2 separate regions of the Homo sapiens genome follow, and region 1 is linked to region 2. The links come from fine-mapping of genetic effects on gene expression. Tissue or cell type: esophagus muscle. Region 2 holds a variant in brackets; the other region holds the start of a gene. All regions are shown on one strand. Distances are from middle to middle.

Region 1 (5,149 bases), 420 kb after region 2:
ACTGCTGCTTGATTTTTTTTCCTCCAACATGTTTTAAACAGAGCTGCAGATGCTCAAGGGAAGCCATATTTCTAAGGTTTTGAACAGTAGTATTTTTCAGTATTTTTCTCATTTAAAATTGGTGCAATTCATCCAAAACATTTTTCAAATGCCATTATTTTTCAGCGTTAAGCGCTTAAACTGCTTAGAGTGAAAAAGGTCTCCATCAGAAAGATCGACTTGCAGAAACCAACTAGTGATCATTAAAATGAGGAGGAGAATAAAAAGAAAGCAATTCGTTTTTTACAGTTTGGAGAAATCTTTAAGTCATCTCTAAATCGTTCATTTTACAGGTAAGAAATAGAGTCCACAGAGGTCAAGTAATTTGCCTCAGATCACTAAGCTACTAATAGCAGCGCTAGAAATAGAATGAGGTATTTTAATTACTCTTAGCGGTACCCCCAAATCATGCAAGTTATATATATTCTCATCACTTGTCATTCAAGTTTTTAAAACCATTATAACTTTGTCATTAATTTCTGAGGAACGTCTCCTACAACATGCTCTAAATTTTCAAAGTTATGCATGTTAAACTTCAAATTCTAACTCCAAAAGGAAGGTACTATTCAAGAACTTTCCTCAGAAAGTTTCAAGCGTGTGTACACACCTAAACCATCACGATGAATTGCAGAGTCCATTCTTTAAAACATGCCCCTCAACTACACTTCAGATGTGTTTGTTCAACCACACACACACAAAAAGAGAAAATTCTGGAAGTTCTTCTGCCAAAAAGCAGTGACAACCTGTCAATGAAATCAGATTGCTCCATTAATATATTATGGGTTTCCAGCTTAAATTAGGAAGTGTCACTAGCATTTCATCAACCCACAGTGTGAAGAGTTAATAAAAGACTGGAAAATGCACTCTCAGTTGGCTCTGGGTCCGAAGGAAGGTGTAGATCTGATACTGTTAACTCAAACTGAAGGGCTGAGCTTAAAAGCGAAAAACAAAAGGAGTGAACAAGTTCCTTAAACAAAAAGCTTTTTCCTACGAAATGCACCCGTACCGTGGTGACCGCATCAGTAAGACTGAATTTCAGATTTTCGTTTTAACGCCCCAGTAAATCAATTCTATACATTTTAGCTTTGAATATTCAAGGACAAGACAGAGGGCACGGTGAGGGCAACAATTTACTCTGGATCACTTTCAAGGACTGTTGTCTAACCACTCATTAAAATCGTTCCTTTGTGCAACTGATTATCTAAAAGTACTGAGAGAATGCAGTACTTCTCTTTGAAAGATAACCGTCAGCAAAAGCTAAAATAATGTGATTTTGATTACAAACTGATGCAGCAGTCTGACCAGTAAAGTGTAGAATGCGTTGTCTTTGTAAACATTACTCACAAATCCATATTCAAGTTACAAACGATATATGTGTTTTTAAATTATGACCTCTGGTACCGCTCTACAAAAATGCAAAAATAACCTAAAAGGTTAGCATGCCTATTTCTTTAAAGTATGACCAGCTTAGCAAGGTGGCAAGTTTGTTTGAAAACACAAAACACAATCACCACCACCGCTCAATAATACACATACATAAACAGATTCGAAGCTGTGTTAAGCACAAAAATCCTTACCCCATTTTGCCCAATGAAAACTTGCTCTGAAGTTTCAGCTCTTATGCTACGGAATAACTTCCAAAGGAATTTCTCCGTCTGCTATTTCGCAGTTGCTTTTCCACCCCCACCCCCAGATCCTTGTCCGGAGGTATTTCAAGGATGCTGCCAATTCAATTAGTTCTCTTAGGTAAAATGATTTCTCTCTTGTAAATACCAAAACGTTCAAACAGAGGCGGCATTTGCTTATTCGAGTTAAAATGCTTTGCGGAGGAGACAGCGATCAACTCTATTCCACAAAATGAGTCTACAAGTAGGGAAATGCAGAATCCGGCTTCACCGAGTCCTATAAAAAATGAGTTCGCTGGTCATTTCACTCATGTCCTCCTCGACACTCAGGGAGAGCCAGGTAACTCGGCCTTTTCGGAGCTAAGGCTGCGGGTTCAAATTTCTCCACCACACCAGGTCTCCGGGGGTGGAGCGAGCAACCAAACGCGACGTGCACGTGAATAAAAATCCCAAAAGCAGTAATGCCACGGCTTCCCTGCGCTCACATTAGGAAAAAAACTACACAGGAAAATCTCCTCGAAGTGCAAACCCGGCAGCTCGCAACCTGCACGGCACTCCACATTGGAATCTGTCTTTTTAAATGTTTCTCCTCCTAAGACTCGGAGCAGAGAAGAGGTGGGGAGGACGAAGAGAAGGCTAGGCAGGATCGATTCATTCTCCCGAAGAGAATAAACGGAGCCATTTCCAGGCTGGCAGCAGGCTGGGGGCGCAGCGCACGCCGGAGAGCTGGAGGAGGGGACCCGATCCCACCTCCCTCAGCCCCTTCCCGCCCCCCGCCGCCGAGCACAATGGAGCCCGGCTGGTGCCCGGCCCTTCATTCGCGGCTGCCCCCTCTTCCCTCCTCTCTTCAGAGCACAGCGGGTCTGAGGCTCCCGTCGGCGGAGAATGAATGAATCACAGAGCCAAGCCCCACGCTTCCACTGGCACCCTGCCCCCAGCTCCAGGGCGGGCGAAAGGGGCCGAAGGGTCGACGGGCGCCTGCCCGAGCCAAGGCGGGAGGCTAAGCCCGCGTTGGGGCCAGGAGAGCTGGGCTCGAAGCCGAAGCGCAGCCGCCGCTCCAGCGCCCCCACCCCTACTCCTCGTCTCTCACGCTCCGCGCCGCCGCCACGCGCCGCCTCACATTCCCCGGGCCCCGCCGCCGCCTCTTCACACTTCCATCAGCGCCCGCCTCCGGCTACCGCCGGGCAGAGCAGCGCCAGCCCCGGCGGCCTGAAGCCTGCCGCTGCCTCCGCCTCCGCCGGCCGGCCGGCTGGCAGAGAAGAGGGTGCTGCTTTCCCGGTCAGCGCCGCCGGCGTGAAGCTAGCGCGGCGGCAGAGTGGGCTGCGGGGGGCGGGAAGGGGGCGGAGAGAACGGGGAGCGAGGGCGGTCCCTCCCTCTGCTCGCGGGAAGGGACGGGAGGCGGTGGCCGCCGCGGAGCCGCGGCCGGGGGCTGGGGCGCGGACTGGTCCCGGGAGCCCGACGGGCCTTGCGAGCAGCGGGCCGCGGGAGAAAGCAGCAGCCGCAAGGCGGCGGAGAGGCTGATGGTGGGGGGCCGAGCGGCCCTCGTGGGGAGCTGGGCCGGCGGCAGGCCCTCAGTCCGTTCGTCCTTCTTTTCCCCCCTCCCCTAGAGGCTGGCGGCTGGCTGGCCGTGCGCTCTGCTCCTCCTCTGGCTCTTGGCCCCGCTCCCGACCGCCACAGCCTCCTCCGCGCCCCACACCAGGTGCTCGCGCTGTGTCTCCATCCTCCCCGCAGGAGGACCTTTAAATAGCAACGTCAGCGCGCTTCTCTCCGCACACACGTCACCCGCAGCTCACGTCACCGAGGTGCGGGGGATGATGTCACGCGGCCGGAAGTACTGCTAAATTAGGGAAGGAGCAGGGGGAGGAGGACTCGGCGAGCTCCTGTGTGCCCACCTGCTCTCACTTCTCCTTAAAGGCCAAAGCACAGGAGACAGCCCGAGAGGAGCTCGAACAAGGAAGCGGCGGGAGGAGGAGATTTCCTTGCAACAAATGTGCCAAACCTGAGTGAATCATTCGTAGCAAAAGTGCAGTGTCAAGCGGGTAATAGCCTATCTCCCACTCCCACCGCTATTGCAGCAGCACCCCCGGGCTTCTCTTGTCCTGACTAGCAGGGAAATGTGGGAGGGAGAGCCTGATCACACTGCTGGTAGATGTGCTTCCAACAGGACTTCGGAAAAATCACCTAAATTTTCAATTATAGAGTGCCATTCTGGACATAGTCGACTTTTAAACTTTTTGTTAGTGGTTACCTGAAACACGAAAGAATAAAGAGCAGAGCAATAAGCAAACGAAATAATGTTATAAAGGATAGTAATTTTATTTGCAAAATAGCAGTTTTGACATAGGAAAATGAGTCAATCTTAGTTCACGTATAGCAAATGCCAGTGTGTCCTCTCAGTTTCTCTTCATCAAGAATATGAGTTCCATGACACTTGGCTCCAGCCAGTAAAACAAGAAAGAGAAAAAGTATATGGGTTTCAGTCTGTGGAATTTAAATTAAAATTTAAAAATTAAAAATAAGAAAGAGCACCAAATCCTTTTTCATTAACACAAGCATATTTTCGTCTTCTTTAGTTTTGACCACATAATATGTAATTACAATATCTCTTAAGTGTGTTTTGCATTTTCTGTATGGCAAGGGTGAGTAGCTGTCTATAGGTTTACTAGCTATGTGTGTCTATAAACACCATATTATGAGTGCTTTTTACATTGTAAATTACTACAGAGTTTTTAAATTATTTTAAAGTAATTAGGTTAAAACAATTTTTTAATTAGGTAAATCATATAGTGAACTTTGATTTTATTTTACTTAACTTGATAAGCATGGCCAAGAAATAGAATTGCTGCGTATTGCCAAAGGCCAATACTGTTTCAAGTTAGTCTACAAATTTAGTGACCCTGTTTTCCAGACCAAAATCTAGACACACCATTTGACGTTAGGAAAAAATATTTGAATCTGAAGTGACCTGGAAAATCCAAAACATAGGATTACCAACCTATGAAGTGATTATTAGGAAAGTTATAGATCAATATCAACGCAGTTTAAATAAAAGAAGCTAAAACTCGTTAGAATGTATACCACGTGTGACTTTTAGAAACTGTTTGTAATGTTAAACTACTCACATGGTTCCTAATTAAGGAACATTGGTTTTGCAGCTTTCTGTATTTACATTTTCTTGCTCAAGTTAGGAGTCCAAGATTAAAGAACACCACCAACAACAAAAAAGACCCATTTGTAACTGATTCAAACACTCTGGTCATCTTCACATTATAAAATTATGATCTTGCTTGAAGTTTGAAATATTAAGTCTTTTTTTTGAGACTGAGTCTCGCTCTGTTGCCCAGGCTGGAGTGCAGTGGCGCGATCTCGGCTCACTGCAACCTCTGCCTCCCAGGTTCAAGCAATTCACGTGCCTCGGCCTCCTAAGTAGTTGGGATTGTAGGCGCGCGCCGCCACGCCTGGCTAATGTTTGTATTTTTAATAGA
Region 2 (5,149 bases):
TTATTCTGTAGACCAAAGCAAGAAGACACCCTTTTTACCCTGACTCCCAAACCTACTGATATTCACAGAAATTTATGATTACACAATAAACACTAGATTTCTGACATCTCATCATCCAAAAATATTGATTTATTCATTGTTTTGTAAGTAAAGTGGAAAAAACAATAAAAATATATTCATCAGAAAGGGCTACGACCAGGGACCTTTGTACTCTTCTTCCTTTGTCTAACAACAAGAAACAAATATTGGTAAAGTAATTTGTATTATTTTCTTAGTTACTTTTTGGAGAATTATACTTTGACTCATTACATTAAAAACTGTTCTCGTATTCTTCTCATTACATTAAAATATTGATAGAGTTAGAAGGACTCTGTTAGAAATTTCAGAATAAATATAATTCATAAAAGTATGTGAAATGTAAGGCTGGGCATGGTGGCTTACACCTGTAATCCCAGTACTTTGGGAGGCCAAGGCAGACGGATCACTGGAGCTCAGGAGTTTGAGACTAGCCTGGGCAACATGGGGAGACCCTGTCTCTACTAAAAATACAAAAATTAGCCTGGTGTGGTGGTGCACGCCAGTAGTCCCAGCTACCTGGGGGGCTGAGGCAGGAGGATTGCTTGAATCCAGGAGGTCTAGGCTGCAGTGAGCCAAGATTGTGCCACTGCACTCCAGCCTGGGCAACAGAGCAAGACCCTGTCTCAAAATAAAAAGTATATGAAATTGAAATACGTTGTCTTTTTCTGAAAGGTGGTATGAAACCTAATGATTGTTATTGAAATGTAAGAAAGGCCCCTGGCATTAATGGATATGGACACAGTTTTCCGTCTGTATGTTAAAACAAAAGTTCTGCTTTAGCCTGATTATCCACCAAGTTTTGACTGTGTGTGTGTGTGTGTGTGTGTGTGTGTGTGTGTGTGTGGTTATATACATATACATACATATATACATATATGACATATTGGACTTATAGGTAAGACTTTTAATTAATTAATTATGTATATATTGAAACACAGGGCTCGAAGGGAGTATTGGGAGAATCTGCTGCCAGCTTCAGGCAGACCTTTCTGTCCTTCGCTGTCAAAGCCAGACTTCTAAGGAGTAGTGAAAGAAAACCCTGAAATAATCGAACAGGAAAAAGTTGCCCTCAAGCCTGACCTGGAACCGTTCCTCACCTTCATCCTCACCATGCCCTGCTATCTCCAGCTGCTGAGCAGCTGAGGTGCTGCAGCCCCTTCCCTTCCAGCCCACAAGTGTGTGCATATTGAGCTCCTGCTGTGGTTAAGCACTGCAACAGACTCTACCAGAGATGCAAAGAGAAGCGAGAGAGGCACCTTGTTCTCCAAGAACTTACTGTCCAATCATGCTGTGGTGCATTCCTTTGAAGATCATGAAGAATAGCCAAACTTGTCTTTGAGGGTGAATTTGACACTTTAAAATAATCAGAAGTCACTGAGACCCAAAGCTAGTGAATAATTCAAGTGACTAAGCTAGATACTTGAGGATGATAGAGCAACACTAAACTAAAGCAATGAGTCTGCTTTTTTTAATGATTTATACAATGACTCCAAAGGCAATCCCAAAGAAAAGATGTAAAGAATGTTTTGAGCAATGGTAGCATTATTGAAATAAATGTTTAACTATCCAAAGTGATTACTTTCAAAGATGATTTTTACTTAAAGATATTAGGTCTGGCCAGGCGAAGTGACTCACACCTGCAATCCCAGCACTTTGGGAGGCCGAGGCGGGCGGATCACCTGAGGTCAGCAGTTCAAGACCAGCCTGACCAACATGGTGAAACCCTGTCTCTACCAAAATACAAAAATTAGCCGGGCATGATGGCGGGTGCCTGTAATCCCAGCTACTCGGGAGGCTGAGGCAGGAGAATCGCTTGAACCCAGGAGGCGGAGCTTGCAGTGAGCCGAGATCAGGCCATTGCACTTCAGCCTGGGTGACAGAGTGAGACTCCATCTCAAAAAAAAAAAAAAAAGATATTAGGTCCTAGAATTTTTAAAATGTGTCTTCATAATCATAGGTAGCTAGGTTATAAACTATTTAAAGACAAGATCACGTGATAAGCTTATAATCTTCTCATAATTCCCCTTACTTAGCATTGTGTTAGACATACTAATAGGTGCACAGTGAAATACTTATTGTTGATTGTTTAAAAATAAAGTTTTAGAAAACCTTTTCAAAAGTCAGAGTTTAGGCCAGGGGCACAGGCTGACACCTATAATCCCAGCACTTTGGGAGGCCAGGGCGGGCAGATCACTTGGGTCAAGAGTTCAAGGCCAGCCTGGCCAACATGGCAAAACCCCATCTCTACTAAATAAAATACAAAAATTATCCAGGCATGGTGGTGCATGCCTGTAATCCCAGCTACTT[G/C]GAGGCTGAGGCATGAGAATTGCTTGAACCTGGGAGGCAGAGGTTGCAGTGAGCTGAGATCGCCCCACTGCAATCCAGCCTGGGAGACATAATTCAAATCTATTTTGGTCTTATATCTTCTTATGTTTGTGTTATTTCATGTGTGCCAGTTTCTCTTTTTTTCACAACAATTTATCAATTTGTGGCAATAAAAATGATTTACCTTTTATAGTGTTTGAATGTCGAAAATGTCATGAACATTCTTTGGAATAATACTAGCAAATATTTATTACTCACTATGTCGCAGTCTTTGTTCTAAAGATGATCTCATCTACATATACCCCCCAACAGGGATTCAAAATTAGATAGTGTTTAACACAGTAGTTTACAGGTAAGGAAACTGAAGTTTAAGGAGGCTAGGTAACTTGCCTGAGGTCACACAACTAGTAAATGTGAAATTAGTAAATTTGGATTTGAACCCATGGGGCTGGCTCTAGAATCCATGCCCTTAGCTACTGCACTACACGGCATCTGTCATGCACACAGCTGCTGCTTTTTGTCAAAAATCTATCCAAATTTTTCTGTCGCTGGATTCAAAGTATTTTTTATCAACTTTCCTTATTATGAATTAACTCTTCAAACCTGCCATGACTGTTTCTGTAATGTTGACAACCTGGAATTTATTTGATATAGCCACTTTACCCATAATACACAACCCCACCCTGCTGGAAATTAGAAAGTGAATCATTTACTATTATCTCAAGGCCTTTGGGGTCCTTAAGGGTGACTAATCCAAACCACCAATTAAATACCTGAATATCCTCGCCAGCATCTTCATCAGGACCATCCAGTCCCTGTTTGAATCCCTTAAATAGTAACTCACTACCTCTCGAGATCACTTACTCCTTTTTAAGAAACACTTCATTCTCTGGAAAGTTATTCCATGTATTAACTAGAAATCTATTTATTAATGACCCTCACCTGCAGACTTGGAGCACCTAAAGTGCAAATTTATAATTTCTTCCATATAACTCTTTGAAATTTAAAGATAGCTGTATGGCTTTCCTATACTTACTTGTCCTCATTTCCTTCAACTAAAAGGCATAGGCTAAGATGTGCTTTGTCAAATCTACCTGTGTGACACTGTACAGTTACTTAAGCTTTATGCCTTAATTTCCTCATCTGTAAAATGAGGGTAAAATAGAACCATCCTTATTAGGGTGCTATGAGGATTAAATGAGATAAGTTTCTTAGAAACAGTGCATGTCGTATAACAGGCATTCATTGCACATTATATAGTATAATATAATTATGTTGACTTGGTTTCCAATCCCCTCATCCTCATGGTGACTGTCTTCTGGGAACACTCTGGTACCAAAGCCTCTGCTTATTTTTAGTATGTAGTCCTGAACACCACATTCCAGGGGAGGACCGTTTACACAATATCTCCTGCTTGCTTCATAGATTTTGTGGAGAGGGCAGTGCAGGACATCATGAGAATAGCAAGAGTGAAGAAGGTACATTAGGAGGGAGAGATGTCTCCACACCGAATCCCTTCCTTGGGTCTGCACCAGCACAAACAAAGGCTTTTATCTAGTTACTGTACAGTTTAGGTGTGCTAAACTGTATAGGAGTTTGAGACCAGCCTGGGTAACATGGCAAAACTCTGTCTCTACAAAAAAATACAAAAATTAGCTGGGCATGGTGGTGCATGCCTATAGTCTCAGCTAGTCAAGAGGCTGAAGCTTGAGCCCGGGAGGTCGAAGCTGCAGTGAGCTGTGATCACACCACTGCACTCCAGCCCGGGTGACAGAGCAAGACCTTGTCTCAAAAAAAAATAATAAAATAAAATAAAATAAAAATAAAAATTAAGAAAGAAAAAAAGATAAATTTTACCATATAAAAACTTTAAATGTATGAACACTCACACAAAAATACTCTAAACAAAGGCAAAGGCAAATAGGAAAACTGTGTAACAGAGGTCAGAAACCACTCTTCCAGTAAAGGGGTCTTGAGCTGCTTTTGTTCAAACCTCCCCGAACCCAAACAGATGTTGTGAGGGGGGCTCGCCTATGTGATTGGCATTCAGAACCCCACTCCACTCCATTTTCTTGGGCTTACAGGTATTATGAGAGGACAGTGTACCCAGCTGGGACCAAGCAAAGCCTTGGGGTCAGCACTAGCATCAACACCATCAGCCATGTTGATGGTCACTGTTTCAGGTGTAGGATATGAGGTTGTGGATCAGGTGCCCCAGGAAGCACAGTGCACCTCGTGGAGATGATGTGAGGGCCAGGTCGTTGGATCTACAGGCACTGACACAGAGCTCGGACAGTTTCTGAGCATTCATATGTTATCCCGTAACATGGTACCTGCCAGCCCCACTTGACTCTTTCCTTCCCAAGAAGCAGGTCCTCTCCCTTGTTGGGCAACTTCTGGGGATTGATGGTCAGCTCCTGTGCGCCCCCACGTGCACTTTGTACTGCCTCCTCCCCACCTCCCTCAATCCCCACAACTATGTAAGGTTTTCAGAAAAACTTTCTTTTCTTCATATGTTATTATAATAGGACATCACTCCAAAAGCAATAGGAAAGTGAAGTCCTCTTTTCTCAATGGCATCCTTATTAGAGGTGGGGAAATATTTGCCTTATATCTTTCCAGTGCTGGGAAAAAAGGGTGGGGGGAACAGAATAACACAATCTGAGTACTAATATCCTGCCACACATATTTGCATACATTTGATAAGCTAAGGGATAGTTTCCTTAATCTATAAATTAGGAAATAA

Which allele goes with the higher level. Positions count from the first base shown, and alleles are read on the strand shown. Sizes are in standard deviations (SD) of each study's normalised expression.
As copies of C replace G in region 2, the expression in esophagus muscle of the gene that starts at base 2,981 in region 1 goes up (small effect, 0.16 SD a copy in GTEx).

Evidence for each region. PIP is the estimated chance that this variant, and not a neighbour inherited with it, causes the effect.
Region 1: HOMER1 starts here. The variant in region 2 is fine-mapped to the expression of HOMER1 in esophagus muscle (GTEx, PIP 0.95).

Annotation. Positions count from the first base shown.
Region 1 is chr5:79,511,154-79,516,302 of GRCh38, forward strand. It overlaps HOMER1 (homer scaffold protein 1), which reads right to left and starts at 2,981. Exons shown (of 9, transcript NM_004272.5): 1 at 1,617-2,981. The coding sequence starts at 1,621. RefSeq lists a silencer at 2,554-3,263 and enhancers at 3,258-3,805, 3,514-3,703.
Region 2 is chr5:79,087,477-79,092,625 of GRCh38, forward strand. BHMT2 (betaine--homocysteine S-methyltransferase 2) reads left to right here. Exons shown (of 8, transcript NM_017614.5): 8 at 1,017-2,593. The coding sequence ends at 1,098. Among named protein-coding and RNA genes, the nearest start is that of BHMT2, 20 kb to the left of the region's middle. The variant G/C (reference allele first, on the strand shown) is at 2,386.